Linked DNA regions of Homo sapiens: all the other regions are linked to region 5. Evidence: fine-mapped expression QTL. A gene starts in region 5. Each other region holds a variant in brackets. All regions are shown on one strand. Distances are between the middles of the regions.

Region 1 (5,000 bases), 60 kb after region 5:
TTTTCACTCAGCGGTAATCATGACTTTTCCAAGTGTGCCTACAAGATTTTTCCATCATGTCTCAAATTAAAGGCTTGAAGTAAATAAAATAAAATAAAATTTCCATATACATGGAGATCATATTTGCTATATTTTTTCCTTTTAAATTTTTTTGAATTATCAGCAGAAGCATGATCTGTATGACTCATTTTATGCCAAAATATGTTATTTCTTAATAGTGTCATACATGTTTAAAAAATGAAAATGCTTTAATTCTTGAGTACAGATTTCTAATCTATCAACCTTACAATTTCTCTTTTTATTGTGGTAAAAATACATATAACATAAAATTACCATCTTAACCATTTTTAAGCATAAGGTCCAGTGGCATTAAAAACGTTCATAATGTCCTGTATACCTGTTCTTTACAGTCCTTATATGTACTAAATGTATATGCAGACTGGTGAATTGCTCCTTTTATTATTTTTCTGTAACCTTTTTTCCCAATAATGCTTTGGCTTCAAAATATATTTCTTAAACATTATTATAAGAAGTAACATCATCTTTCTTTGCTTATATTTACCTCAAATATAATTTTCCATTTCTTCACATTCATAATTTTGTGTCTTTATGTTTTAGGTAGGTCTGTTGTAAACTATATATAGATGGACTACTTTTTTAAAATCCACTTTGAGAAGTCTTGCCATTTAACTTGCAAATTTAGTCAATTTACTTTAGGTGTATTTCTACCATTCTTTTTAACTTTTTGAGATAATTGTATATTCACGTGAAACTAATTTTCACTTAGTTTCCCCCAGTGATAGCATAACTAAAGTAAATATTACAACCAGAAATTGACAATGATATAAACTGTTGACCTTAATTCCATTTACACTAGTTTTACATGCATTCATGTAGTGTGTGTATGTGTGTGTGCATGTATTTAGGTCCATGAAGCTTTATCACATGTAAATTTGTGTAACTATAACAATAGTCAATACAAAACAGTTCCATCACAAGGACTCCTTTCATTGTTCACACCCTTTCCTTGTCTACTTCCCTCCCTAATCCCTAAAAAACATTCACCTCTTGTTTGTCTCTATCATTTTGCCATTTTTTGAATGTTAAATAAGTGGAATCACGGAGGATATATGATTTTTGAGACTGGCCTTTTTCAGTCAGTATAAATCCTTTGAGAACATCTGATATGGCCTGGCTGTGTCCTCACCCAAATCTCATTTTGAAGTTCCCATAATCCCCACGTGTCATGGGACAGACCAGGTGGAGATAATTGAATCATGGACAGTTTCCCTCATCTGTTCTCATGATACTGATTGAGTTCTCACAAGATCTAATGGTTTTATAAGCCCCTTTTGCTCGGCACTTGTTGCTGCCACCATGTGAAGAAGGATATGTTTGCTTTCTCTTCCACCATGATTGTAAGTTTCCTGAGGCCTCCCCAGCCCTGAGGAACTGTGAGTCAATTAAACCTCTTTCCTTCAAAAATTACCCAGTCTCGGGTATTTCTTCATAGCAATGTAAGAATGGACTAATACACCATCCAAGTCATTGTATGAATTAATAGTTGTTTCTTTTTAATCTATGGTATGGAGATAAGAGACTCTCATTCAAAAACGGGAAAAACAGGAAGCACATAGCAGTCACTACTCCACAGCAATTCTTTCTCCAGTTCCTTCCTTCCACTCTCCCTTATTTTACCTTATTTATTTATTTACCTTTTCAGACAAGGTCTGGCTCTATCGCCCAGGCTGAAGTGCAGTGGTGTGATCTTGGCACACTGTAACCTCTGCCTCCCGGGGTCAAGCCATCCTCCCACCTCAGCCCCCTGAGTAGCTGGGACTACAGGCATGCACCACCATGCCCGGCTACCCTCCACTCTCTCGAAGCCAATTCTGATTTGGCTTTCTCTATAGTCCATCTACCAAATCTTCTCCTGTCAAGGTCATCCGTGACCTCCATGTTGCTAAAAACAATGTTCATTTCTCAGGCTTTATCTTACTTGACCTATAAGCAGCATTTGACATAGTTTATCAAATGACCATTATTCTACTTCCTTCTTGAAACACTTCCTCATTTGGCCCCTGTGACATGACACTCTCTTATCTATCTGTTTACTTCACTAACTACTCCTTTCTCAGTCTCTGCATTTACTTCCTATCCCTCTCTTGGCAAATTACAACAAACTTAGTGGTTTAAAGCAACACAAATTTATCTTACAGTTCTGGAGGTCAAAACTGCAAAAGGAGTTTCACTGAGCTAATATCACGGTGGCAAACCTTCTGGAGGTGCTAGGGGGGAATTTGTTTCCTTGTCTTTTGCAGCTTCTAGAGGCTACTTGAATTCCTTGGCTTGTGCCTCCCTTCTAGCAATCATATTACCTCACTGACCTCTGCTTCTGTCATCACATCTCTGTCTTTGGTTCTGATCCTCCTGCCTCCCTCTTATGAGCAGTATTCTGATTACATTGGGTCCACCTGGATACTCCAGGACAATCTCTCCAAAATATATTAACAGGTTTTGAAAGGCTGGGATGTGAGCATCTTTGGAAGGCCATTTTGCTGCCTACCACATTCTCTCTTGCTGGTTCTCCCACATCTTTCTAACCTAAACATTGGCATCCTTCAAGGACTCAATCTTCTGATTGTTTCTTCCCATTTCTATGCTTATTCCTCGTGTTAACTGTTACAGTGATTTATATGACTCATATCTGATATTATGGCTTTTAAGTTCCAAGTATATGCTGATGATGTTTAAAGGTATATATTCATCCTGGACTTTTCTACTGAGCTCCAACTGCATGTGTGACAATCTTACTTCGTATATCCAATGGACATCTCAAATTTAATATACTCCAAGTGGAACTTCTCATTTGTCTTGTATCCGAAAAGCTTATTCTCTAAAAGAATTTCTCATTTCAATAAACTTAAAGTTCCATATTTACTT[A/G]GAACAACACCCATAGACTCTCCTTTTTTACAATCTACATCCATTTTACCAGAAAATCCTGATAGTTCCATCTTCAAGACATATTCAAAAACAAATTATATTTCCTCACATTCCCCAGGCAGACTCATCCAAGCCACCATGATCTCTCGCCTGGATTATGGCAATATCCTCCTTATCCATCTCTCTATTTGCATTCTTTCTCCCTACTGTTTATTCTTAACCTATCAATCTAAGTGAAAGCATAAGTTAAATCATTTCACCTCTAGTGACCTCCTCTCACTCTGAGAGAGAGAAAACCAAGAAAATTGACTGGGCCTGCAAGGCCCTACATCATCTGCTCCCCGTCTCCCATAATTTCATTTGGTACCTCTATGACTCATCTTCTATTATTTTTCTCTGGCTTTCTCTGTTTCAGCCCTACCCACCTCCTTTTCATTCCTGGAACATTATTGGCATTCTCTCCCTGTAGGGATTTAGCACTGTCTCTTTTCTTCTCCTACCATGCTTTTCCCCAGATATCCTCTTTGTGTGCTTCTGTCCCTCCTCTTGGTCTTTGTTCAAATTTGACATTCTCAGTGAGGCTTCTCTGAAAAATTTGTGATCCCTACTTCTGACCTAGCACTTCCTATCTTTCTCCTCCACTTTATTTGTCTCCATATCACTCATTCCCATGCGATATGCTCAGAAGCCCTTCACTTCCATGGTCCCTTTCTAAGGTCCTGTATTCTTTTTCTTAAAGACAGCCCACAACTGATTCAGGATTCAGGTGCTACAAAAGTTGGATGTATTTTAATTGTTAATTGTCTGTCTCCTTCTGTAAGAGTGCAAGCTCCATGAGGGCAAGAGTATTCGGTGTTTTGGATCACTGTTGTATCATATCACATAGAGGAGTATCTGGCACATAGTATGTAATAAATATTTGTTGAATCAACTAATACAATCAGCAGAATTCACAAAGAAAAACACCAATAGATATAACCCTCTAAAAAACTAACTTCTGTATTTTACAAAAAATACCATAAACAGAATGGTAATCAGCAGTCTAGGAAAATATTTGCCACAACTTTGATAGACAAAAGTTGAATGCCTTTAACATACAAAACAGCAAGAACAAACCAAAACTATAAAAACCATGCAAATGAACAAGACAAAATTTAAGTATTCAGTGGGAAAATATGTAAGCAGTTATTCATCAGCTTTAGTGAAATGATGCCTTTGTGTCATTGGGATAAAGATTCATGTAGTTTAGATGGACGAAGTCAACAAATGATAATTAAATTATTTGGCTCAGTGCTTGTTCTTTGTTAATATTCTTACATTGGCACCATTCCAGTGTGTCTGGAAGAGACCTATGAGACACTGTGGGTTTCTCTCATAAAACAGAAGCAGTCACATGGCTTTGGACATTGCCTTTTTCAAAGACTACACAAGTACATTTTCTTTTTCTTAAGACAATAGTAACTTTCAGAGTATTTCTTAATATTGAATAAAAAAATAAATGATTATGAATCATAAACCACAAAACCAGAGGACTGCTTTTGTGCCACTGTAATTACCAACAACATTCATATGCTTACTCTAACACAGGGCCTAATTTCAGTAGATTTAGTGGTAGGCTTGTTTATTTATAGGCAACTTTCTTTAAACAATTACCTAGAATGATTAAACACTTTTAAATGGGTTGTGTCTGCTGCTATGGCAGAACTTTTTTCTTTTCACTTCATCTTGTAAACAACATTTACTTAATTCTTTTCTGATTATAGAAATAACTTCTGTTCATTTTAAAACTAGCTTAGATTGACAATAGACAGAGAAACATAAGAAAAATAGAGAAAGTTTTCCCTATTCTCACAGCAGAAACAGTTATCAGCACAGAAAGGTTTCTATTTTTGTGTATTTAGTTTACAGTAAATTTTAAAGTCCATTTTAGCAAAACTGAGATCTTACACTCTATATTATTTCACTTCTTGCTTTTGTAATTCAATTTCATATGGTGAACATTGTTTCATATCATTGTGTGTTGTTCAAAAATTTGCAAATTCAGTTTTAATTTTATA
Region 2 (5,000 bases), 45 kb after region 5:
CAGCATATAAACAGAACCAAACACAAAAACCACATGATTATCTCAATAGATGCAGAAAAGGCCTTTGACAAAATTCAACAGCACTTCATGCTAAAAACTCTCAACAAATTAGGTATTGATGGCACGTATCTCAAAATAATAAGAGCTATCAATGACAAACCCACAGCCAATATCATACTGAATGGGCAAAAACTGGAAGCATTCCCTTTGAAAACTGGCACAAGACAGGGATGCCCTCTCTCACCACTCCTATTCAACATAGTGTTGGAAGTTCTGGCCAGGGCAATCAGGCAGGAGAAGGAAATAAAGGGTATTCAATTAGGAAAAGAGGAAGTCAAATTGTCCCTGTTTGCAGACGACATGACTGTGTATCTAGAAAACCCCATCATCTCAGCCCAAAATCTCCTTAAGCTGATAAGCAACTTCAGCAGTCTCAGGATACAAAATCAATGTGCAAAAATCACAAGCATTCTTATACACCAATAACAGACAAACAGAGAGCCAAATCATGAGTGAAATCCCATTCACAATTGCTTCAAAGAGAATAAAATACCTAGGAATCCAACTTACAAGGGACGTGAAGGACCTCTTCAAGGAGAACTACAAACCACTGCTCAAGGAAATAAAAGAGGATACAAACAAATGGAAGAACATTCCATGCTCATGGGTAGGAAGAATCAATATTGTGAAAATGGCCATACTGCCCAAGGTAATTTATAGATTCAATGCCATCCCCATCAAGCTACCAATGACTTTCTTCACAGAATTGGAAAAAAACTACTTTAAAGTTCATATGGAACCAAAAAAGAGCCTGCATCGCCAAGTCAATCCTAAGCCAAAAGAACAAAGCTGGAGGCATCACGCTACCTGACTTCAAACTATATTACAAGGCTACAGTAACCAAAACAGCATGGTACTGGTACCAAAGCAGATACAGACCAATGTAACAGAACAGAGCCCTCAGAAATAATGCCGCATATCTACAACTATAAGATCTTTGACAAACCTGACAAAAACAAGAAATGGGGAAAGGATCCCCTATTTAATAAATGGTGCTGAGAAAACTGGCTAGCCATATGTAGAAAGCTGAAACTGGATCCCTTCCTTACACAGTATACAAAAATTAATTCAAGATGGATTAAAGACTTACAGGTTAGACCTAAAACCATAAAAACCCTAGAAGAAAATCTAGGCAATACCATTCAGGACATAGGCATGGGCAAGGACTTCATGTCTAAAACACCAAAAGCAATGGCAACAAAAGACAAAATTGACAAATGGGATCTAATTAAACTAAAGAGCTTCTGCACAGCAAAAGAAACTACCATCAGAGTGAACAGGCAACCTACAAAATGGGAGACAATTTTTGCAACCTACTTATCTGACAAAGGGCTAATATCCAGAATCTACAATGAACTCAAACAAATTTACAAGAAAAAAACCAAACAACCCCATCAAAAAGTGGGCAAAGTATACGAACAGACACTTCTCAAAAGAAGACATTTATGCAGCCAAAAAACACATGAAAAAACTCATCATCACTGGCCATCAGAGAAATGCAAATCAAAACCACAATGAGATACCATCTCACACCAGTTAGAATGGTGATCATTAAAAAGTCAGGAAACAACAGGTGCTGGAGAGGATGTGGAGAAACAGGAACACTTTCACATGGTTGGTGGGACTGTAAACTAGTTCAACCATTGTGGAAGTCGGTGTGGCGATTCCTCAGGGATCTACAACTAGAAAGACCATTTGACCCAGCCATCCCATTACTGGGTATATACCCAAAGGATTATAAATCATGCTGCTATAAAGACACATGCACATGTATGTTTATTGCAGCACTATTCACAATAGCAAAGACTTGGAACCAACCCAAATGTCCAACAATGATAGACTGGATTAAGAAAATGTGGCACATATACACCATGGAATACTATGCAGCCATAAAAAATGATGAGTTTATGTCCTTTGTAGGGACATGGATGAAGCTGGAAACCATCATTCTCAGCAAACTATTGCCAGGACAAAAAACCAAACACCGCATGTTCTCACTCATAGGTGGGAATTGAACAATGAGAACACATGAACACAACAAGGGGAACATCACACACCGGGGACTGTTGTGGGGTGGGGGGAGCAGGGAGGGATAGCATTAGGAGATATACCTAATGCTAAACGACGAGTTAATGGGTGCAGCACACCAACATGGCACATGTATACATATGTAACAAACCTGTACGTGGTGCACATGTACCCTAAAACTTAAAGTATAATAATAATAAAATTAAAAAAAAGTATAAGTAACTATCTGATAAGGCCATTATTTCTAATTTTTTCAAATATATGTTCGGATTTAATGATGTTAAAACTCTTCTCTTTTGAGGGTAAAAAGTTGTTGAAGTACATGGAGAGTTGGTTCAATTTTTTAATTTAAAAGATGAAGAAAATTCCTGCTCCGCTAAACTCTACCTTCTCTAGGTATTTGCTAAGGATTTTTTTTGCAAAGAATATGCTGACTCTGTAATTAAAAAAATGTATTATTAAAGTCTGAAACTTTACTTAGAAGTTATGTGGAATAGTTAATATTTATTTGAAAAAACAAGCATTAATAGGGAATGAGAAAAGAAAACAAAGTTAACGTGTACAGTATTCTATAAGAATAATGACACCAGGATAAGAGGATTGCCAAAGCCTAATTTGGAGTGGAAAATTAATTATCAAAGGTGTTACATATAATTGTCCACTAAATTATACTTGACATTAAATCAAGGGGAAATAAAAACACCTTAAATCATCCCATTGCCACTTCATGTGAACTATGAAAGAATGTGGTAGATCAGAACCTTCTAAGACCACAATTTCTTATTTTTTAAATGAGGGTA[G/A]CAAGATTGAATCCTGTTTCAAGTTCTCCTTTGAAATCAATGATGAGACTTTTTATTTTTACAATTTCCTCTCTTCTTAGAATAAATAGTCTCTTCATTTACTCTCACACAAAATTTCTCTAATTATTTCCATATTCTCTTACAGTAAGGCTTGACCTCTGAGCTTGTATTACTAGATAATATAGAGGAGAGTCTCCAAATGCTTGGAGTGTCTATGTATATGCCTGTGTGTGTGTGCACGTGCATGAGTGCGTGTTATGTGTGTTTAGCCCCCAAGAAGAAAAAATAAAAGACACTGCAAAAATTAGGTAGGTCATTAAATCAAGTAGGATTTTATGAAACTATTTTACAAATCATTCTGTTTGATGGACATTTATTATCTTTAAGAGGTAAGTTTAATCTAGGTGAAGTTATTTTCTGCCTTATTTTTAAATCATAATGTTGATTAAATCTTCAATAAAACAACTAAAATGAAACGTTGCACTGATTGCAATGCCCCCCAACCACCTCCCCACCCCCCAGCCAAAAACTCTGCAAAGGGTTTCTGTCAGAAAAACAGTCCAGAAGAAAAGGTGACAACTAGATCAGGTGGATGACAAGCAGCACTGGGGGTGGGGGATGGGGCAGAAGCTTCTGCCAAGCAATAGGTGAAACTTGAAACCCAAGTGTGTATTAATCTGAATCACTTGTCAACTTGTAGGGTCACTGACCTTGAAGAAATGAATTTATTTCCTGGTCAAATACTTTCTGAAAAGGTGCTCACATTTTAATCAATTTTCAGGCCCTCACTAAAGTCCAGATTAATTTGTGCAGCTCGAAAGTTAATTAAACCCCTTCTTCCAACAAAACAGATTCATTCCAAACCATTTGATTCCTGCTTATGACCATTTCTTAAAAATGCTTTTGAAAAAAATCCACTGGTGGTAACAGCAACTGAGGATCCCTGGGAGCCCTGGAGTTGTTGTTCACAGTCTTTGGAATACTATCCTGTGGCTTTTAGATAGGAGTGTTAACAATTTTCAACAACACACAAGTGTACTATTGACCTCTGTAAGAATCCACTCTAGGAAGCAAGGTTGTTGATTTCATGGAAATTGAAAAATCACAAATTCCTTCTCCTTTTTTTTCCCATTTCCAGTTATCTTAATATTTCCCAAACCAGAACACTAAAAAAGAAACAAAAAAATTAATTATTTAAAGATGTTATACAAGAAGAAAAAGTAGTTTGAAGTCTGAGTGTTCCTGGAAGTTTAAAATGTTCTTGCATATTTTTTAAAGCTTCCTAGGAGCTATTACAGCTGCAATACTTGAGGGAGAAATAAATGAAGTATGAATATGTGGTCCAATATAATGTGATTGTCTTCTGGCTGTAAATTCAACTGTCTTCACTGATTGTTGAGAAAGCAATGGTGTTATACATGTAACTGATTACTTTTTATAGCCATTCTGTGTGAAATATATTAGATGTTTAAAAGAAATGGGTGATCCCTTTCACAAAGATCTGAAAAAGGCAAACCCTCTCCATCATTTGACAGATGCAGAAAGCTGGAGAATGGCCTCCAATCCCATGCTAATTGTCTGTCCAGTAGAGCTCTCCTGTGAGGCAAAATGAGGGGCTAGAAGCCTAGAAAGGGAGCAGGAGGTTGAGCAGCACTTGCTGTGTCTTTTGTAATCAGATGAACATGGTCTCGAGAACCAAGGGGCAAAACTACTGCTAACTTCTTTGCTGTTTTTGTGCAATTGTAATTTAAATCAAGCCAAGTGTATACCTAGGTGAGGTTCTGTCCCTGCTCTCATCTGAAAAGCCACTATTGACAAGCTCAATTTTAGGATGGTCATTTATTAGCTGAAAGACATCTACACATGGCATGCCTCACGATCACCTCTATCACACTGAGTTTCAAAGCCAAAATAATGGTGAGCTCAGCAGAAAAAATCTGGAAAGATGCTCAAGGCCTAAGACAAAAAAGAAAGGGCAAAATTAGGTTATTAACTTAAACTAGGCAACTATAACATCAGTAAAAATTGTCCTAGTAAAATACAGTATACCTAATTATGTCAACTTTTTTTGTTTTTTTTTTTTTTTGACAGAGTCTCTCTCTGTTGCCTAGG
Region 3 (5,000 bases), 26 kb before region 5:
CTAAGCCAGCACTACAAGAACTGCTCAAAGAGCTCTAAATATTGAAACAAATCCTGGAAACACAGCAAAATAGACCCTACTTAAACAGTAAATCTCACAGGACGTATAAAACAATAATACAATGAAAAAAAGGTATTCAGGCAATAAATAGCATGACAAATAGAATAGTACCTCACATCTCAATACTAACATTGAATGTAAATGGCCTAAGTGCTCCACTTAAAAGATACAGAATGGCAGACTGGATAATAACTCACAAACCAAGTTTCTGCTGTCTTCAGGAGACTCAGTTAACACATAAAGACTCACGTAAACCTAAGGTAAAGGTGTGGAAAAAGATATTCCATACAAATGGACACCAAAAGCAAGCAGGAGTAGCTATTCATATATCAAACAAACTGTAAAGCAGCAGGAATAAAAAAAGACAAAGAAGGACATTATATAATGATAAAAGTTCTAGTCTACAGGAAAATATCACAATCCTAAATATATACGCACCTAAAACTGGAGCTCCAAAATTTATAAAACAATTATTACAAGACATAAGAAATGAGATCAATGCCAACACAATAATAGTGGGAGACTTCAATACTCCACTGACAGGTCATCAAGACTGAAAGTAAACTGTGAGACAATGGACTTAAACTATATCCTAGAACAAATGGACTTAACAGATATTTACAGAACATTCTACCAACAGCTGCAGAATATACATTCTATGCATTAACACACGGAACATTCTCCAAGATAGACCGCATGATAAGGCACAAAACAAGTCTCAGTAAATTTAAGAAAATCAAAATGATATCAAGTACTCTCTCAGACCACAATGGAATAAAATTGGAAATTAACTCCTAACAAAACCCTCAAAACCATGCATATATATATATAGAAATTAAGTAACCTGCTCCTGAATGATCATTGGGTCAACAATGAAACGAATTTTTAAAAATTATTTGAACTGAGCAATAATAGTGACACAACCCATCAAAACCTCAGCAATAGTGGTGCTAAGAGGAAAATTCATAGCATTAAATGCCTACATCAGAAAGTTTGAAAGAGCAAACTGGGGTCACATCTCACAAAACTAGAGAAACAAGGACATTCCAAACCCAAACCCAACAGAAGAAAAGTAATGACAAAGATCAGAGCAGAGAATTAAATGAAACTGAAACAACAAGAACAATACAAAAGATAAATGTAACAAAAAGCTGGTTGTTTGAAAAGATAAATAAAATGATAGACCATTAGTGAGATTAAACAAGAAAAGAAGAGAGAAGATCCAAATAAGCTCAATTAGAAATGAAATGGGATATACTGATACCACAGAAATACAAAATATTATTCAAGGCTACTATAAACATCTTTATGGACATAAACTAGAAAACCTAAATGAGATGGACAGATTCCTGGAAATATACAACCCTCCTAGATTATACCAGGAAGATATAGAACTCTGAACAGGCCAATAACCAGCAGCCAGATTGAAATGGGAACTAAAAAATTGCCAATAAAAAAGTCCAGGACCAGATTAATTTACTGCTGAATTCTATCAGACATTCAAGGAAGAATTGGTACCAATCCTACTGACACTATTCGACAGGAGAGAGAAAGAGGGAATCCTTCCTAAACCATTCTATGAAGCCGGTATTACCCTAATACCAAAACCAGGGAAGGACATAACAAGAAAAGAAAACTACAGACCAATATCCCTAATGAACATAGATGCAAAAATCCTCAACAAAATACGAGCTAGCCAAATCCAACAGTATATCAAAAAGAATCCATCATTATCAAGTGGGTTTCATACCAGGGATGCTGGAATGGTTTAACATCTGCAAATCAATAAATGTGACACACCACATAAACAGAATTAAAAACAAAAATCATATGATCATCTCAATAGACACAGAAATAACATTTGACAAAATCCAGCATCCGTTTATGATTAAAACCCTCAGCAAAATCGGCATAGAAGGGACATACCTTAAGGTAATAAAACCCATCTATGACAAACCCACAACCATCATTATACTGAATGGGGAAAAGTTGAAAACATTCCCTTTGAGAACTGGAACAAGACAAAAATGCCCACTTTCACCGCTTCTATTCAAGATAGTACTGGAGGTCCTAGGCAAAGCCATCAGACAAGAGAAAGAAATCAAGAGCATCCAAATTGGTAAAGAGAAAGTCAAACTGTTGCTGTTTGCTGATTATATGATTGTATACCTAGAAAGCTCTAAAGACTCATCCAAAAAGCTTCTAGAACTGGTAGATGAATTCAGCAAAGTTTCAGGATACAAAATTAATGCACAGAAATCAGTAGCTCTGCTATACACCAACAGCAACCAAGCTGAGAATCAAATCAAGAACTCAACCCCCTTTTACAATAGCAAAAAATAAAATACTTAGGAATATACCTAACCAAGGAGGTGAAAG[G/A]TTTCTAAGAAGAAAACTACAAAACACTGCTGAAAGAAATCACAAACAACACAAACAAACAAATGGAAACACATCCCATGCTTGTGGATGGGTAGAATCAATATTCTGAAAATGACCATACTGCCAAAAGCAATCTACAAATTCAACTCAATTCCCATCAATATACCACCATTATTCCTCATGTAACTAGAAAAAAAAATCCTAGAATTCATATGCAACCAAAAAAGCCTGCAGAGCTAAAGCAAGACCAAGCAAAAAGAACAAATCTGGAGGCATCACATTACCCAACTTCAAACTATACTATAAGGCCATAGTTGCCAAAACAGCATGGTACTTGTATAAAAATAGGCACATAGGCTGGGTGCAGTGGCTCACACCTGTAATCCTAGCACTTTGGGAGGCCGAGGTGGGTGGATCATTTGAGGCCAGGAGTTTGATACCAGCCTGGCCAACGGGGTGAAACCTTGTCTCTACTAAAAATACAAAAATTAGCCGGGTATGGTGGTGCACACCTGTAATCCCAGCTACTCAGGAGGTGGAGGCACAAGAATAGCTTGAACCCAGGAGGCAGAGGTTGCAGTGAGCTGAGATTTTGCCACTGCACTCCAACCTTGGCAACGGAGCAAGTCGTTGTCTCAAATAAATTAATTATTTAAAAAAAAAATAGGCACATAGACCAAATGGAACAGAATAGAGAACCCAGAAATGAAGCCAACTGATCTTTGACAAAGCAAACAAAAACATTAAGTGGGGAAAGGGCACCCTATTCAACAAATGGTGCTAGGATAATTGGCAATCCACTGCAGGAGAATGAAACTGGATCCTCATCGTCTTACATTATACAAAAATCAACTCAAGATGGGTCAAATACTTCAATATAAGAACTGAAACCATAAGGATTCTAGAAGATGACATTGAAAAGATCATTTTAGACATTGGGTTAGGCAAAGACTTCATGACCAAGAACCCCAAAGCAAATGCAACGAAAACAAAGATAAATAGATGAGAGTTAATTAAACTAAAAAGCTTCACAGCAAAAGAAATAATCAGCAGAGTTAACAGACAACCCACAGAGTGGAGGAAAATCTTCACAATCTACACATCTGACAAAGGATTAATATTCAGGATCTACAAAGAATTCAAACAAATCAGCAAGAAATTTAAAAAAATCACATCAGTGGGCTAAGGACATGAATAGACAATTCTCAAAAGAAGACATACAAATGGCCAAAAAACATGAAAAAATGCTCAACATCACTAATTATTAGGGAAATGCAAATGAAAACCACAATGTGATACCAACCTTACTCCTGCAAGAATAGCCATGATCAAAAAATCAAAAAATTGTAGATGTTGGTGTGGATGCAGTGAATAAAGAACACTTTTACATTGTTGGTGGGAATGTAACCTAGTACAACTATGGAAAACAGTGTGGAGATTCCTTAATGAACTAAAAGTAGATCTAACATTTGATCCAACAATCCTACTACTAGGTATCTACCCAGAGAAAAAGAAGTCATTATACACAAAAGAGACTTGCACACGCAAGTTTATAGCAGCACAATTTGCAATTGCAAAAATATGGAACCAGCTCAAATGCCCATCAATCAATGAGTGGATAAAGAAAATGTGGTATATATATCATGGAATATTATTACTCAGCCATAAAAAGGAACAAAACAATGGCATTGGCAGCTAGCTGGATGGAATTTGAAATTGTTATTCTAAGTGAAGTAACTTGTGAATGGAAAACCAAACATTGCATGTTCTCAGTCATAAGTGGGAGCTAAGTAATGAGGATGCAAAGGCTTAAGAATGATACAATGGACTTTGGAGCTTGGGGGAAGGGGTGGGAGTTGGGTGAGGGATAAAAGACTACACATTGAGTACAGTGTACACTGCTTGGGTGATGGGTACACTAAAAATTAAGAAATCACCACTAAAGAATTTATTCATGTAACCAAACACCACCTGTTCCCCCAAAAACCTATTAATATAAAAATAAATTTAAATAAATAAATAAAATGCCTCACAAAAAATAAATAATTTTTTTTAACTTTTCTTACTAGTCAGACTTCTGCTTTGTCTCTCTCTGTGCAAACTGGTTGTAGGAATGGTAAAAATTACTGTATTCTCTGCCCCTCCGTGAGTTCAAAAGCCAGAAGTATTGGCCATTTGGCGTGGCTAAGGTTGGGTAATAAGAGAATTAAAAGGACTTATTTTAAAAGGAGTGCTATGGTTAAAAGCCAGCTTAATTAAAAGCGGATAGCCAAGCTGTAGTTATATTTCAAAAGCCTTTATGTCTTTTCTCTTTGTGGATCTTGTTTTTCTTAAAAAAAGTTTTTTTCTTCTCAGTCGACTGAATTATTTTTCTCCATTTTATCTTGGCTCTCTTAATGCACATATGAGAAGCCCTAAGATAACTTCTGATGTCCAGGGACTCCTTGGGAAAAACAAAGGAGGTGGCCGGGTGCGGAGGCTCATGCCTGTAATCCCAGCATGTTGGGTGGTCGAGACAGGTGGATCACCTAAGGTCAGGAGTTTGAGACCAGCCTGGCCAA
Region 4 (5,000 bases), 600 kb after region 5:
TTTAAATAAGTGGGATCAAGATCCTAAAGAATTTCTTCAAAGTATTGTGACAGAAGATAAAGCATGGCTTTGCCAATACAATCCTGAAGACAAAGCACAATCAAAGCAATGGGTACCAAAAAATGGAAGTGGTCCAATCAAAGCAAAAGCAAATTGATCAAGAGGAAACTTCACGGCAACCATGTTTTGAGATCTCAAGATGTTTTGCTTGTGGACTCTCTAAAGGACGAAAGGATGATAATATTTGGCTATTAGGAGAGTGGTTTGAGATAGCCATCGCTTTAGCGGAAAAACACCCAGGAAAACTTTATCAGAGAGTCCTCCACCATGACAATGCTTCTGCTCATTTCTCTTATCAAACATAGCCAATATTGCAAAAGTTTTGATAGCAAATCATTAGGCACTCATCTTACAGTCCTGATTTGGCTCCTTCTGATTGGTTTTTGTTTCCTAATCTTAAAGGGGTATCCATTTTTCTTCAGTTAATAATGTAAAAAGACTGCAGTGACATGGTTAAATTCTCAGGACCCTCAGTTCTTTATAGATGGACTAAATGAAAAAAAATGGACTAAATGGCTGGGATCATCACTTACAGAAGTGTGTTGACCTTGATGGAGCTTATGTTGAGACATAAAGTTCACAACTTTTATTTGCAGCTCTTAATTCCATTCTTCCACAGACTTTATCAACTCCCCTCGTGTGTAGGAAAAGACATATTTTAGAGGTGTATCAGGCAGTTAACGAAAAACATAATGTAACTTTTGTGAGAAAAAGAAGAATCTTGAAGGGTCTGAAATTTTACCCTATTTGCAAACAGGAAATTGGCCTAGCACAGTTTCATGGATACTGGCAGAAGACATAGCCTCCTAGGTCAGAGACAATGGACTTTATTAGTCACAGTGATAACAGTAGCCAGAGGGTTATCATTTATTTTCTTGTGTCAGTTTGGTTGACCCAGCTTCCCCAGGGGGATGTGAAAGGGGCCAGGGAACACCTGCACATGCAGTGAGTTGAATTATAGGAGAGGGACCCTGAGCTTCAGGAAGCCAAATATTTTATAATGTGCAATAAATCATCAGTGCAGTAAAATGCCTGCCTTTGCTCTGAAGTAAAAATCCATCTCTACCTTCCCAAACTGTAAGCATATCTGCTCTTTTCCTTGCAGGGAGATACTGTCTTTATTGCTATCTTTCAAGGCTGTTTGCTATACAAACATCCTTGAACAAAAAATCTGAAACAAAGGCAACCAGTGCCTCTACTCACAAGATACACAGAAATGCAAGAGACCCATGGAGAGTTATCTCCTGACAAACAGACAATCTTCCAAGATTAACTCTTATGATGTCAGGAGATAACTCTCCATGGGTCTCTACTTTCCAATCTTCTCCCATTAGAAAAAGGTGGAAAAGAAATATTATCAGAGGAAAAAAAGCTTTCCATTAATGCAAGGAGATTAAAATAGCGTTACCATATTTGTACAAATTTAACCTTGTTTAAATGACAATCCCTTCTAGGGATTGTTATTTCTCTAGGCTAGCATGCTAGAGCTTGGAGCTTGATATTGTTTGGATGTTTGTCCCCTCCAAATCTCACGTTGAAATGTGATGCCCAGTGTTGGAGGTTGGGCCTAGTGGGAGGTGTTGGGTCATGGGGACAAACTCCTCATGAATAGCTAGGTGCCCTCCCCCCAGTAATGAGTGGTAATGAGTTCACATGAGATCTGATTGTTTAAAAGACAGTGGCACCTTCCCCACATGTGCTGCCTCTATCTTGTGATGTGCCTGCTCCCCTTTCCTTCCACCATGACTAAAAGTTTCCTGAGGCCTCACCAGAAGCCAAGCCAATGCTGGTGCCATGTTTGTACAACCTGCACAACCGTAAGCTGAATAAACTTCTTTTCTTTATAAATTGCCCAGCCTCAGGTATTAAACAGCAACACATAATGTCCTAACACAGGGATTATCCAGCTCTTTGGGGATTTTTACCCTCCATTGCTCCCACACTCATCCTCCCCTGTGGGACCCAGGGTTTTTCAGTCTCCCTGTTTATTTTCTCAGTGACTGTCACCATAAATCATGCACCTTCTAATTGTAGGAAAGTTATTTGCTACTTACAGAACTATGGCATTGTCA[T/G]GACTCCCTTCCGTTATCTGTTCATTTGTGTATTAAATTGCCCCAAGCTGTGCTCTTAGCCTCTCAGAAGAAACACCATTTCTTGGAAACTTCCAAAACTGACATGGAAATTTTTTCTCTGAGAGTTAAAGGATTAGAACTGAGTTATGTGTATTTCTTCATGCAGTGTAAAATGAGGAATAGTGAAAATTCAGAAAAAAGAAACCTTTATTATAAATCTGAAAAATCACATATTAAAAGCAACCCGCCAGCATCTTCTCTGATCATATACAACATTAAAAATGATTCCACATCAACTTTGTAAATAATTGTTCTCATATGAGCCCATAACTTCACAAGGCACAGCAGTATTTTTCTGTGTGCATGATATTCAGAAAATCCCTGAAGAAGTGAGGGTTTAGCACAAATCCATATTTAATCTGTCTTGAGAAGAAGTCTAGATTTTTACAATCATCTTCTCCTAAGCACTGAAGGGGCCCAATGTCTGAAAGAATGACAGTGGCTGTTTGTTGCTGTTGTCTTCTTTTTTACCAGCTTTATCGTGGTAGGATTCATAAATAAAAATTGTATATATTTATGGTGTTCAATGTGATGTTTTGTTGTACATATTTATTATAAAGTGATTACCACTATCAAGGTAATTAACATATTCATCACCTCAACTTACATAATTGTCTTCCTTTTTTGTGGTAAGAACATTTAAGATCTACTCTCTTGGCAAATTTCAAGTATTTAATATAGTATTCTCAGCTATAGAAGAGTGGCAGTATTTCATTTTTTATCTGGAATAACACTTTCAACTCCCGTTCTCTTTTCTACCCTTCCAAAAAGAAAATAAGAATGAAAATTAAGCATTATTCTCCCCTTCAGGGAGGGACAATGTCCTTGTTATGCAAGGCAATAATAATGGTTACTGTTCCCATGGCCCTCTAAGCACTTCATATACATTCACTCAACCCTCACAACCTTAAAGTATATTCTGCTGTTTTCCCATTTTAAAGATGTGGAAACACAGGCAGGTCCTGGGTTCACGGAATTGTGTGTGTATGTGTGTGTGTGTACACACGTGTATGCACATGTACCCACATGTGCATAAACATGTGTCTTTGAGGAAGTGGAGCCAATATGACCACTTGTGGGCCATACACTTAGCTTCACTGAGCCCCTTTCTTCCAGTTCCATCAGCATCTCCAAGTCTCCTCTACCAGACGCAGGCCTGGTTTCAGCTGCCTGAGAGAGCTATTATGCTTTCACTCCCTGTCACTTCCAACTTCCCAGCCTTATACTCAGGCTGTCTTTCCCCATTTGCTTCCTCCAGAAAAATCTCATTCTCTCTTCTTCTGCATCAATCTCCATTGGGCTGGTCCAGAGCTTCTCAATTCCTGTCCAGAGAGCTGTGTCTTATCTCCTCCTTCAGAAAGGGAAACAGGTATCTTCCTCTTTGCCCTGGGAGTCCTAACAGAGCCCATGAAAGAGTACTGGATGAAGTGACCAGAATAGGGGCTGAGGAGCCTGTTTCACTTACCCTTCCTTCAGAGTGTGAATTCTACCACTAATTAGGCTGAGGAGTGGGTGGGCAGTGAGAGGAGGTACGGACAGAGGAAGAGAGTTACCAAAAGTAAACATGAGATGAACAAAACCCTACCTAGTGGTACAGATGGAAGACCCTGTTTCAGAAAGCTAGATAGTTGGTTCCTTCTTTGATTGTGCCTGCCACTGAGAGATTTGAAGATTGTAAAAGGTGGTGTGGGACAAGGAAGCAGGACCAATCAAAATTGTGAAAAATTTTTAAATAGCTCTGCTCAGGGAGGACTAGGAGAGAAGATTCTGTTAGAGGCACACAGTAAAACCAAAATGCTCAGACCTACAGGGTTGGGGCTCATGCCTCTAAAGTCACTTCAGCTGTTTGGAGAGGACGAGAGAGAAGAGAGAAGGGACAGAAAACTGCAGAGGATAAGATGTGACAGAGGAACCGAATGCTAGCATCAAGTGAGGGAGAGGCAGGAGGCACAGGCGAAGGGAATAAGAGAGCAGGGAGCTCAGGAGTCTCTCAATAGCTGAGTTGCTGTCTTCTCCTTTGGCAATCAGGGCCTACAGGTTGGCCCCACCATTGAGCTCATGTTGTTGAGCTGCTCCAGTTGCAGTTGCTGCTGAAATTTCACTTCTAGTGTCTGCACCAGTGAGTTTCCACATCCAGCCAAAAGCTGGGTCATCTACTTCATGAACTACTGCTGGGCATCAGAAGACCTGTTAGGGAAGTTGTGCCTGGCATGGCTGGGAAAGAGCTGGGAGACTTGGGCACAGACCTGAAGCTGCTGTCTGCCAAGGGTGCTGGAGTCTGAAACATCCCAAAGAAATCAAGGCTGGGTACCAGCCAGAAGCCTCAGTCCACTAAGTCTCCAGTCCCTGCTGTATCTACAACAGCATCTGCAAGAATTGACAAAAAGTGAGAGTGACTCCACATTCTGCATCTGTTACAAGAAGACTGAGAGCTGCAGGCAGAGCTGCTCCTGCACTTAGGGATTCCCCAAAAAAGTGGCATCTAAGCATCAAAGTTAGGGTTTTGGGTAAGCATCTGCATCATGCTATCCATGCAGGGAGCTGAGATCACATTCTGCATCATCTGGGAGTTCTCAAAGATCTGCTAGAGGAGGGCCTGTATTCCCGGGCTATTGAACATCCCTGACCACAGACTAACTGCATTAATTGCAAAGAAGTTTGACACTGTCGAGTGCATCTGGCTGGCCCCCAATCCTCCAGTGCCCTCCCCACCAGACCCAGGAACCTGGGAGATATGGGGTGAGGGATTCCACAGGTTAGGGAGGGGCTCTCAATTCTCAGTTGGGAGGATGAGCTAGGTCCCTATAC
Region 5 (5,000 bases):
GATAATGATTCAACTAACACTTTTAGCATCCTTCCATATTGGATCTTACAAATGTACTATAAACTAACTCTTGGTTTTTGTCACATAAAGAAGGGGCTCTCCATTTGCTTACACCTAACTTCTACTGAACACACAGTTCTGTACAACTTGATCCCTGGAGGTGGGCCTCTGTTCTCTGACCTTTTATTTTTCTAAATTTCTATTACTTTTCTCTACCATTCATCTCAGGATGACTTTATATTGCCTTAAATTTGTTGTAATTTTTTCCATGTATACATTACGTTTTATTATTCTTGAGGACTACCCACATTAACTAAGATAGACTGATTGTATGATGAGATTTAAGTAAATTCTTACTTATCAATTATTAATAAATTTCTTCAAAGAAGAAATTGCCGAGAGTGAGGTATTTTTCAATTCTAATTAAATTATGGGAAACTAGAACAATAAGCCAGTGAATTGTGGTAGAAGCCCAAGCCTGAATTTTCAGCTGTTAAACATCCCCCTCAAAATAATAATAGCTATTTTAAAAAATCAAACTTATTGCAGCTGATATACCATAAATATCAAAAAATTGAAAACTCAACCAGAAGGCATTTCATTCTATTTTATGATAGTCATGAAGCAGTGCAAAAACATTTAAGGAACACTCTGAAGATGGAATAAATGATGTTTTAAGAAACAGAAATAAGAGGATTTACCAAGCAAACAGAATGAAATTAAGAGTAGAGTTGAAAATGGCAAGACAGCTACTATTTTTCAGTTTTATTTTATTTTTAATTGACAACTGTACATATTTATGAGGTACAAAGTGATATTTTGATACACATATACATGTGGAATGATCAAATCAGAGTAATTAGCGTACCCATTATCTCAAATTTTTATCAGTTCTTTGTGGTGAGAACATTTAATAGAAAGTAAATGTATTCTATTGGAAGCTCAAGTTACTGGTTTCCAGCTGTTACAGCTGAAAGAAAGAGGGAGGAAGGCAGGGAGTAATGGGGAAAAGGAGGGAGGGGAAAGAAAACAGAAAAGGGGGAGCGGGAACATGCAATATTCTTTCAGAGTTAAGAAACTTAATCTGACAGGTTTATAGAATTTCGTTGGAACCTAGAGCAAAATCACAATGGCTGAAGCGTCAATCAGGCCTATAAAAACATCTGTGTTTAGTTTAAATGACTAAGGGTGAAATACATCAGCTTATGGAAAATGGGGAGGGCTCCCAGTATTTGGCCAGCGTTCTAGGTGATGGATGTTGATGAGCAATTCCCTTCAACAACTGATTTACTGCCAACGGACAAAATGCTGGAAGCACATCCAAAAACTTATCTGCAATTAAAATTACAAGCAAGTGGTCACTCTGTTCACCTCCTTTACCAGAGAGGTGACCCTGCTCCCGGCAACTACCTCCACCCAAGGGCCACAGAAGAACTCCTCCTTCCTCTAACCCTCTTTCCTTGGCCTCAAACCTCACGGTAAAACCTGCCTTGCTCTGTCTCCCAATCGCTTTTGTAAAGGAAGCTGGGTGTAGAGCTCTTCTTTCTCCCTCCCTTCCTTTTTTCTTTCCTTCCTTCCTTTCTTCCTTCCTTCTTCCATGCCTTTCTGTCTTTCCAAATTCATTGCTTTGTAAGAAACATTCTCAGATCACCTCCACTCCACTAGAAATCCAACGCAGGCGAGTCGGAGTCAAGCACAGGCAGTGGGCGGGTGGCCTCAGCCGGCACCATCTGGCACCTGCGATTCATCGCCACTTTCCATTCGCCCAGAGGTCAGGGGGGCAGCAGGCAAAGGACACGCAGAGCTCGTGTGTCCCAGTTCCTCTGAAACTTTCAGCTGACCGCACCCTCCCCCGACAAACTCTTTAATCATCCATCAAGCTAGAAGAGTACAGTGACCTCTGCCTGGCCTTTGGAGTTTGCAAAAGAAGCAAGCAATAAAAAGCAAGACCAGGTTCGCCCCTTTGCTTCCTCCACCTCCCAAGAGCAGCGCGCAGCGCGGCGGTGCGGCCGGAAGGGGCCGCTGTTTGCTCAGCGCAGCCACCCCGCCGCTGCAGCCGCCGCGGCCCGCACCTCCCACGGCCGGGCTGGTCCAGCCCCGCCAAGTTCCAACAGCCCCCCCTCGAGCGAGCGCCGGGAACGAGCACCACCAGGGCTGGAGCGGACGGCTTTAGAAGAGCCTAGCTGCTGCGCGCGTCGGAGAGGCTCCTGGGAAACTCCCACGGCCCAGGGACTTTCGAAAGCAGAGCGAGGAGCCCTCGCACGCGCTAGTCTGCGAGTGAGCGCTCAGCCCGGCACCTGTTCCTCCAGCGCCGCCGCCTTCCCACCCCTCGGACCCGCGCCGCTCGCGGCGCCCGCCCGTTCCTGCGATGAATCCGGCCCTAGGCAACCAGACGGACGTGGCGGGCCTGTTCCTGGCCAACAGCAGCGAGGCGCTGGAGCGAGCCGTGCGCTGCTGCACCCAGGCGTCCGTGGTGACCGACGACGGCTTCGCGGAGGGAGGCCCGGACGAGCGTAGCCTGTACATAATGCGCGTGGTGCAGATCGCGGTCATGTGCGTGCTCTCACTCACCGTGGTCTTCGGCATCTTCTTCCTCGGCTGCAATCTGCTCATCAAGTCCGAGGGCATGATCAACTTCCTCGTGAAGGACCGGAGGCCGTCTAAGGAGGTGGAGGCGGTGGTCGTGGGGCCCTACTGACCCGCCCTCTGCCCCCGCGGCAACCGCTCCCACGCCTGCCCACTTTGCTAGCCCGGCTGTGCCCCTCACTATCAGAGACTGGGCGAAGCAAACCTGTCGGAGTCAATTATTTCTCTCGACTTCGGCCTTTCGGAAAGAAGCGACCGGTTTCTCCCTCGCCCTCTGAAAGTCCTCATGCCTGGCAGTCGGAGGAGAGCGCCCAGACTCTGAACTCAGCAGAAAGTGGCAAGAAGAGGGCGATTAGGGCGCAGAACTTTGGAAGCTGCTACTTACTTGGAATGCGGGGAGACCGACGGTGCGAAGGCCCTTCTCCACCCGCAGGTGGGCCAAGCTCTGGGGGCAGGTGGAGAGGGCGGGCAGGGGAGAGACCCAGCGGCACTGATCGCCTTGTGACCGGAAGAGTGACCTGTTAAAAGCCACGCAGCAGACTCATGGGGTCTCACAAATCCGTGTCCGGGTGCGCTCCCACTCTTCTCCTGCTCCCCCCCTGCCCTGGAGGGGAGGGGCGATAAATACCTTTGATTGTAACGTGCCGTTTTAAGAGGTTTTGTGTTTGTTTGCTTGAATACAAATGTTTGATAAGTCTTTTTCTGCCCCAGTGGCCTGTTTGCCTGCCTGAGGAGTTACAGTTTTGTCATTGTGGGAGAAGGGGTGGGGGGAGGGGGAGCCTGCGAATTTGAACGGGGTGAGTTGTTTCTTTTAGTGCATTTCCCACTGGGTCTTTTGGGAGGCGTCTAGCGTTCCTGCTGGCCCTGGGACAAAGACCCAGAATAGAACTCGTAGCTCGTGACTGCACGGTTTACGCCACAAAAGTGCTCTTGACATCCGTGACACCGTTTTGACTTTTTGTTTTTTTCTTATTTAACATTTCCTTAATAAATGCAACATTTAAGCGTTTTGTTCCTGGCCTCCTGGTGGTCATTCTGCGCTCCCCAGCAGGGGGGAACGGGGCGGCGGTGAGGAGTCTGGCTCCCGGCCAGGGCAATTAACCCTGGAGAGCTGCGATTCAACTTGTGGATCCCCTGGAGGGGCGAGGGTGGGGCCAGACGGAGAGGCCCTGGGATGACTGAGAAGGAGCCCAGCCTCAGGCACAGTAGCCGTCCTGGAGGCAGCATCCTTTGTTTCCTCTTATCGTGAATATTTTATATTTCATTTAGTCTCAGCTCTCAGGTAGGCGAGACGACAGAAGGGCCCCCGCGGGAAGATTACACTTCCGTGCCAGGCTCCGGCGGGAACACAGGATTACACCGCTAATGAAAGGAAGAGACGGCTTGGACAGCCTTTAGGGAGGGCGTCTCTACCCTAACCAACGTCAGCCAGGCGGCTTTGGGATGCTGCCCACGGGTGGGGCCGGGGGGCGGAGGGAAGGGGAATTATAAAATGCGAGGAAAAGTAGCTGCTAAGGTACACAGTGACGTTAGTGACGTTAATGCTCCCTAGGGTAAACCATTGTTACTAAAACATGAGATGCATTACTGTCGTTGTGATATTACTTTTTCTAGCAAAAAGACCACGTTAAAAGATTCAGCCTGTTCTTTGTAATTTAGTATGCCCCAGACCAGGCAAAGGGTTGAGAGGAGTTAGCCGAGGTCCTGAATGTGGGAGATGAGTATTACAACCCCAACTGGGAAGGATATTTGGAGTAGAACTACAGATGGCCGTTGACACATTTAAGGTTCAGAAATTCAACAGTGTTAGAAAGAAACGCCTAAAAACCGTGCCTGTGAAAATAACCCAAAGGATACAATAGCTTCGAGCATAAACTTGACAAAAGGTTTTGAGCAGTTTATTTTTATGCCTGAGACAGGATCCTAAATATTTTCAAGACTATAAAGAATCCACTAGGATGCTATATAGCAATTAAAATTTCAAAGACTTCACAATGGCAGCTATAAGAGTAACTAAAATCAAATAATAATAAAGTGTTCCATTTACTCAGAAAGAAGCACAACTGGTGTAAACAATGTTAACGACTCAAAGATTGGGATCAAAAGTTTTGAGTGCCTTTAATGTCATATCCACTATTAAGTGTCCATTTCGCTCTCAAGTAAACCTTGTTAGAAATCACAACCTAGGATGGTTTTTTGAATTCTAATGGATATCAGGATTGAGAAAAGAGGATTTTGAAGTTTTGCTTGTTGTTCCTGTCTTTTAAACAGGTAAGGGTTTGTTTGCTTGTTTGTTGTTTTGGTATCTGGGCAGGGGGCAGGGTCAAGAGATAGTCAATAGGTAGTCAGTAGGAGTCTTGGAAAGCAATCTACTTTTGCTAACCGACAGGACAAGAAATGGCAATGTTCTATTT
Region 6 (5,000 bases), 180 kb after region 5:
TCTAGAATTATGTCCCACAACCTCCAAAAGAGTAGCTTTTACAAATTGTTATCTATGTAGTCTTGATTCAAAGTAATGACATTGGTTTGAGGAAATGTAGTCAGCAAATAAGAATTTTAACCAAAACTCAAAATATTTGCTTACATAAAAAATGATAAGGCTCCAAATACATAGTCCTCAGCAATCCCCTTTGCTTTCCTGTCCATTTCCATTAAACTCCAGATGCTTCAGACAGTCTTGTCACAATTATCCCAGCTTTCCCTGTACATCCAGCCCTCACATAAGTATTGTTTTCTTTTTCACCCTTCTGCAATTCCTTTACCGTATACTGTAGCTTGACCCAACATCTCTCATATCAATTAAAAACACTCCCTCTAAAGGAGCTGAGAGAGTGAGAAAAATTCGACTATCACAGGATTCTAGAGAGAAGAAAGTGGGGAACCTACCCATGTTAATTCTTATTGCACCTAACTAGGGGAGCGCAAACTAAAGCACAATTTGAAGTATTGTTTCTTCTCTTCACCTGTTCCTTAGTAACCAACCCACTTTTCCTTCTTGATATAAAATCTCAGTAACAGTAATTTGAGAACACATTAGCTGTTTCCTAACAGCTTGTGGAATGTGGCCCTTCTGAGCTCTAGAACAGCTGTGGAATCCAGGAATAGCTGTCAGAATATTGCCTCAATTTGAGACCTACCGGTGGCAACTGTGGCTGTACTCGGCACCACGGGATGATGTTAGTGGGTGATAAGGCAATGCAAATCTTGTGAAATTGTCAAGGACAGAATGAGAACAAAAGACTACCAATGGGCAGATGGCTGAAATGCTACAAATATGGAAAAATGAACAATTCAGGTATAAAAATTGAAAGTGGTTGAATGAAAATTTGATTCAATGCCAACGAGCAACTGTGTTGGAGATCCTCCATTCAGCCCTCAAGGTCTGCTCCCTGCCTTTTCCCACCAAGCTCTGCTCCAAAGGGCTGATCTGTATTGATTGTGTCCACAAGCTCCCTTGACTTTTGGCTTCCCATTGGGTTTTCCAAAGAGAAAGAGGAAAAGGAAATCACTGGATGGGAAGAGAGAGAGACTGGCTAAGGATTTTATTTTTCCAGCTCTCTGCTGCATCTTCGAAAAAGGCTATAGGGCTGTCAGATAGCCTTGGCTGTGAAGATTCTCTTTCTGGTTTCTTCCTTGCCCCTTCAGGTCTGGGTTGACTAACAGTTCCTATTATTGCTAGCCCTTTAGTACTGCAATATCCCTTTTGAATTTCCCTATAAGCCCCACCCATTCTTTTATAAGTGATTTCTTCATTCAATTCCCCTCAAGTACCTAGTTTGAGTGTGTTGTTTCCTGGCAGCATCCTAGTTCAGAATTCTTAAAAGCAAACAAAATAAAAGATGACTGTGCTCTGAAACAACGTTGCAAATAATTTCTCAACAAAATTTTTCTTCGTTCTTATATCTTCCTACAATTTTCTGTCATCAATATTCTTTGTACTATGACATATCCTCCTTTACCTAGTCTAAAGGAAAAAATTCTGTCACATAAAATACAAAAGAAACCTTATTCAAAATTCTATTATTTGGATTTGGATTGCATTATATTTTTTGGTATGGAGTGGGGAATACATTTGTCTTCAAAGATGTCTTACGTTTGTGCTCCAAAATCAGCTTGCTTTTGAGGGTTGAGAGTAAAATGGACAACCTAGAAAATCATTGAATTGTAAGAAAAAATATCTATTCCTTTATGAAAATGTGACTGTAATTTTCATAAAGTATTGATCTTACCTTCCAGTAACATACTCATGAATACAGAGACAGAATTATTTGAAGAATATCAGGGGAGCTCCCAACTATTCCAAATTATCTCTCTCTTGCAAGTGCTAAACTGCTTGAAAGGTTTTCATAAGTTATTCCTTGGGTTTGGTTAAGCATTACCCCATCTTTCTGTCCTCTATTCTCTTCTTTGCAGATACATTATTCTGGATAGCAGAAACCATAAAAAGAATCACTAACAGCTCAAAGTGAATTTTCTATTGGATTCTTTCTTGTTATCAAGGGTAAGGAATTCAGAGTGCCTAACAGAACAGGGGTTTGTAAATGTGAGAAGCTGTACTAGCAACCAAAGAAGGCAAATATAACAATTATTCATTAATCTCCTGCTAACATTGAGTTCACTCTGACATAGGAGATCACCACTCTTATAGTATTTGCTGCACTTGGGTAACTGTAAGACCTAAAAATGTCTTCAGGAACTGAATCTTTAATAGTGGAATATCAGTCCCAATGACAGATGGTTTGAGCAGGAGGTGTCATGTGATCTTCAGTCCGGTCACGAAGGTGACCTGATAGTCCGTAGATATGTACATCTGTCTTTGAGTGTGTGATCTGCATGGCTTCTCTGCACAGTTACACCCTAATTTGCACACTTTCAACTCATGTTCCACCGTTAAAGTCACAGGCCACCTAAGCATCAAGGAAGTAAAAAAGTAATCAAATTTAGAAATAATAGTAGTGATAGGTAAAGAAGAACCAGAATAACAACAGAAGCAGCAGTAACAAAATTTCGGTCCTGGGAGAAAGAAGGCGCACCTTTAATTCTCTGAGATAACCTGCTCATTTGTATGAGTACATTCCAACTTTCTCCTAAATTACATGCTCAGAACCAGCCTAGTTTAGCTGCAAGAACTCCTAAGAATTCCTTTATGCCCAGGTGTGTATTCTATTCTTGAATCATAATGTTTTCTCTCTCCATTGGATTTGTTGAATCACCCAGTTTGAAGGATTTTTCTAATTCAAACCTCTTTTCAGTCAGCACATTGTGACACCTTCATTCAGAGAGACCTGCTCTTGCTATCTACAAAAGGAATATTTAACTCTGCCCTAAACTCAGCACATCCACTATTGTTAGCCTCAGCAACTGCACTGCAACAATTTAGT[C/A]CTTTAGTGGAGCCTGAATGACTGCTCATTATTTACTTTCTTTTCTCATTTAGTATCATTTGTAAACCTGAAATTTTGCTTTCCAAATCAGTCAGCTCATCCTTGTACATTACAATAAAGTTAGTGCCTAAATGTTCACACTTATCATTTCAGAGACAAATATAATGGGCTACATTTCTAAATTTTTACTGCATGTCTCTAACTCTACCTTGTCAATCCCTTAAGGGAGTATTCTTTTCCCTCCCTGTTGTGTGCTGAATACACAGTTAAAATTCTTTCTCTCAAAACTACTCTGCAATTTTATGCCTCTTCCAGTTTTCTCTTTATAAATGTTCAGGTAACTTTTCACATTTTCGTGTCTTAAATTATCCTCACTGCTTCACAGTTGCAAATAGAAAAATAAAGATCTCTTTTGGGTTGACATTTAAAGGTTTGTTATTCTGTCTTTGATATATGAGTTTAATGCTCATTAACACTAAAACAAACCAGCTGAGAAAAGAAAAAAAGCAGCTGCCTTCAAAGATCCTGGAATAAATAATGTAACACAGTCTCTTCTTTTCTTCCTCACTAAAATGATATTAACAAATTCCACATTCCTTCAAAGTAAGCTTTTAAAAGTTTAATACTGTCTGCTTTCACTTTTCAAAGGTGTGCTGATGGCATCCTAGAGTCTGATTGCTTTGTTAGGAATTCTTTTTCCTCAAAGGAGATGGAATATACTCTCTTCCATTCTATTTTTATATGTGTGCTTTAAGATTAATTTTAAAAGATTTCAAAGCACCAAGTATTTGAAATTAAATATAAATCATGTGATCCTATGGGAAACATCATGACTGCTTGGTTCTCCTGTGATTTAGGGAGCTACATAAGCAGGGAATTTTTTTTAAAGAAAAACATTTAACATGAGTAAATCAATGCTTTTCCTTGATAAAAAAAAATTGAGAATCCATTTTTGCTCAGTATTTTTACAAGTTTTATTTCCATGTACATTTATTTCTCTTTTCTATCACAATATTTTAGACTAAAGTGAAAATATGCTGTCTCTTCAAGTAACTACTAGAAACACAGTTTCTATCTGGCCCTTTAAATCACACCCTTTCATTCTGCGTCAGTCAGGAATATATCCTGCCACTTGAGTATAATGGCAATTTCACTTAGCTTTTAACAGGTGACCTGTCATGTATGAATCACATACTGGAAACAGTATAAGAAATCTGCTGTTTTCTCTCTCCATTATGAACTTCTAATTACTAAAACGACATTAAACCCTGGAATTTATGAATATTTGAAACACTTGGATTTTCTGAAACAAATATGAAATTCACAAAAGGGATAAGGAAGTTGTTAATTTTGCAAGGTAGGTGCCAATTATCAGAAGTATTTTCTCGGTATCTTAAGCTCAACAGGTAGCCTTCTATTCACTATTACAGTTTTGGAAACAGAAATTCTCCAGGAATGGGAGGTCCAGGCACCTGTGTTGGTTGATAACTTCCATTCCCTCCTGGGGTCCCCTTTCTAGAATTTTCCACTTACTCAAATTCTCTTTCCTCAAGTTTCAGTTCTTAATGCTGATCAGGATTATCACAGGGTTCAGTTTTGTGTAGCAGACTGAATGCAGAGATAACAAGATAGCTAGAGTTTTCCTATCTGATGGGCCTCACTCCTGCAGTCTGGAGAGCGGAGCAGCATTTTCCATAAGCTTGTTGACACACAGTCAAAGACTGAGTGGGCGCTCTAATGTGTAGCCCTTGACCCTTGCTATGCCAAACAGAGAAATGAGAATTCAGCAGACTTGATTCAGGGAAAACCAAAAGTCAGATGTACCAAGTCCCAATTGTTTCTCATTCCATCTTAGGAGACATTTTATTAGCCTTCAACGCTGAGGTTTATACCACTATTTCTGATCCTTCAATGTGCCTGTAAATCCCTGAGAATCTTCTTATGATGCAGATCCTGATCCAGTATGTCTGGAATTTTTCTCAAGATTCTGCATTTCTCACAGAGAAACTCCCAGGTGATGCTGGTGCTAGTGAGATACTGGTCCATAGATCACACTTTG

Alleles and levels. Positions count from the first base shown, and alleles are read on the strand shown. Sizes are in standard deviations (SD) of each study's normalised expression. Not every link is listed here.
For the expression in adrenal gland of the gene that starts at base 2,172 in region 5, allele T in region 4 goes with a lower level than allele G (small effect, 0.34 SD a copy in GTEx).

Evidence for each region. PIP is the estimated chance that this variant, and not a neighbour inherited with it, causes the effect.
Region 1: its variant is the best candidate, but not a certain one, in a credible set for the expression of RPRM in whole blood (INTERVAL, PIP 0.83).
Region 2: its variant is the best candidate, but not a certain one, in a credible set for the expression of RPRM in whole blood (TOPMed, PIP 0.56).
Region 3: its variant is the best candidate, but not a certain one, in a credible set for the expression of RPRM in whole blood (TOPMed, PIP 0.63).
Region 4: its variant is the best candidate, but not a certain one, in a credible set for the expression of RPRM in adrenal gland (GTEx, PIP 0.85).
Region 6: its variant is the best candidate, but not a certain one, in a credible set for the expression of RPRM in whole blood (INTERVAL, PIP 0.67).

Annotation. Positions count from the first base shown.
Region 1 is chr2:153,415,578-153,420,577 of GRCh38, reverse strand. It overlaps a transcript of GALNT13 not described here. Among named protein-coding and RNA genes, the nearest start is that of RPRM, 61 kb to the left of the region's middle. The variant A/G (reference allele first, on the strand shown) is at 2,944.
Region 2 is chr2:153,431,122-153,436,121 of GRCh38, reverse strand. It overlaps a transcript of GALNT13 not described here. Among named protein-coding and RNA genes, the nearest start is that of RPRM, 45 kb to the left of the region's middle. The variant G/A (reference allele first, on the strand shown) is at 2,889.
Region 3 is chr2:153,501,535-153,506,534 of GRCh38, reverse strand. It overlaps a transcript of GALNT13 not described here. Among named protein-coding and RNA genes, the nearest start is that of RPRM, 25 kb to the right of the region's middle. The variant G/A (reference allele first, on the strand shown) is at 2,440.
Region 4 is chr2:152,877,689-152,882,688 of GRCh38, reverse strand. It overlaps the pseudogene UBQLN4P2. Among named protein-coding and RNA genes, the nearest start is that of ARL6IP6, 160 kb to the right of the region's middle. The variant T/G (reference allele first, on the strand shown) is at 2,133.
Region 5 is chr2:153,475,934-153,480,933 of GRCh38, reverse strand. RPRM (reprimo, TP53 dependent G2 arrest mediator homolog) reads left to right here and starts at 2,172. Exons shown (of 1, transcript NM_019845.3): 1 at 2,172-3,596. The coding sequence starts at 2,369. The coding sequence ends at 2,698. It also overlaps a transcript of GALNT13 not described here. RefSeq lists a silencer at 1,938-2,137 and enhancers at 2,494-2,997, 2,998-3,501, 3,502-4,005.
Region 6 is chr2:153,295,676-153,300,675 of GRCh38, reverse strand. It overlaps a transcript of GALNT13 not described here. Among named protein-coding and RNA genes, the nearest start is that of RPRM, 180 kb to the left of the region's middle. The variant C/A (reference allele first, on the strand shown) is at 2,942.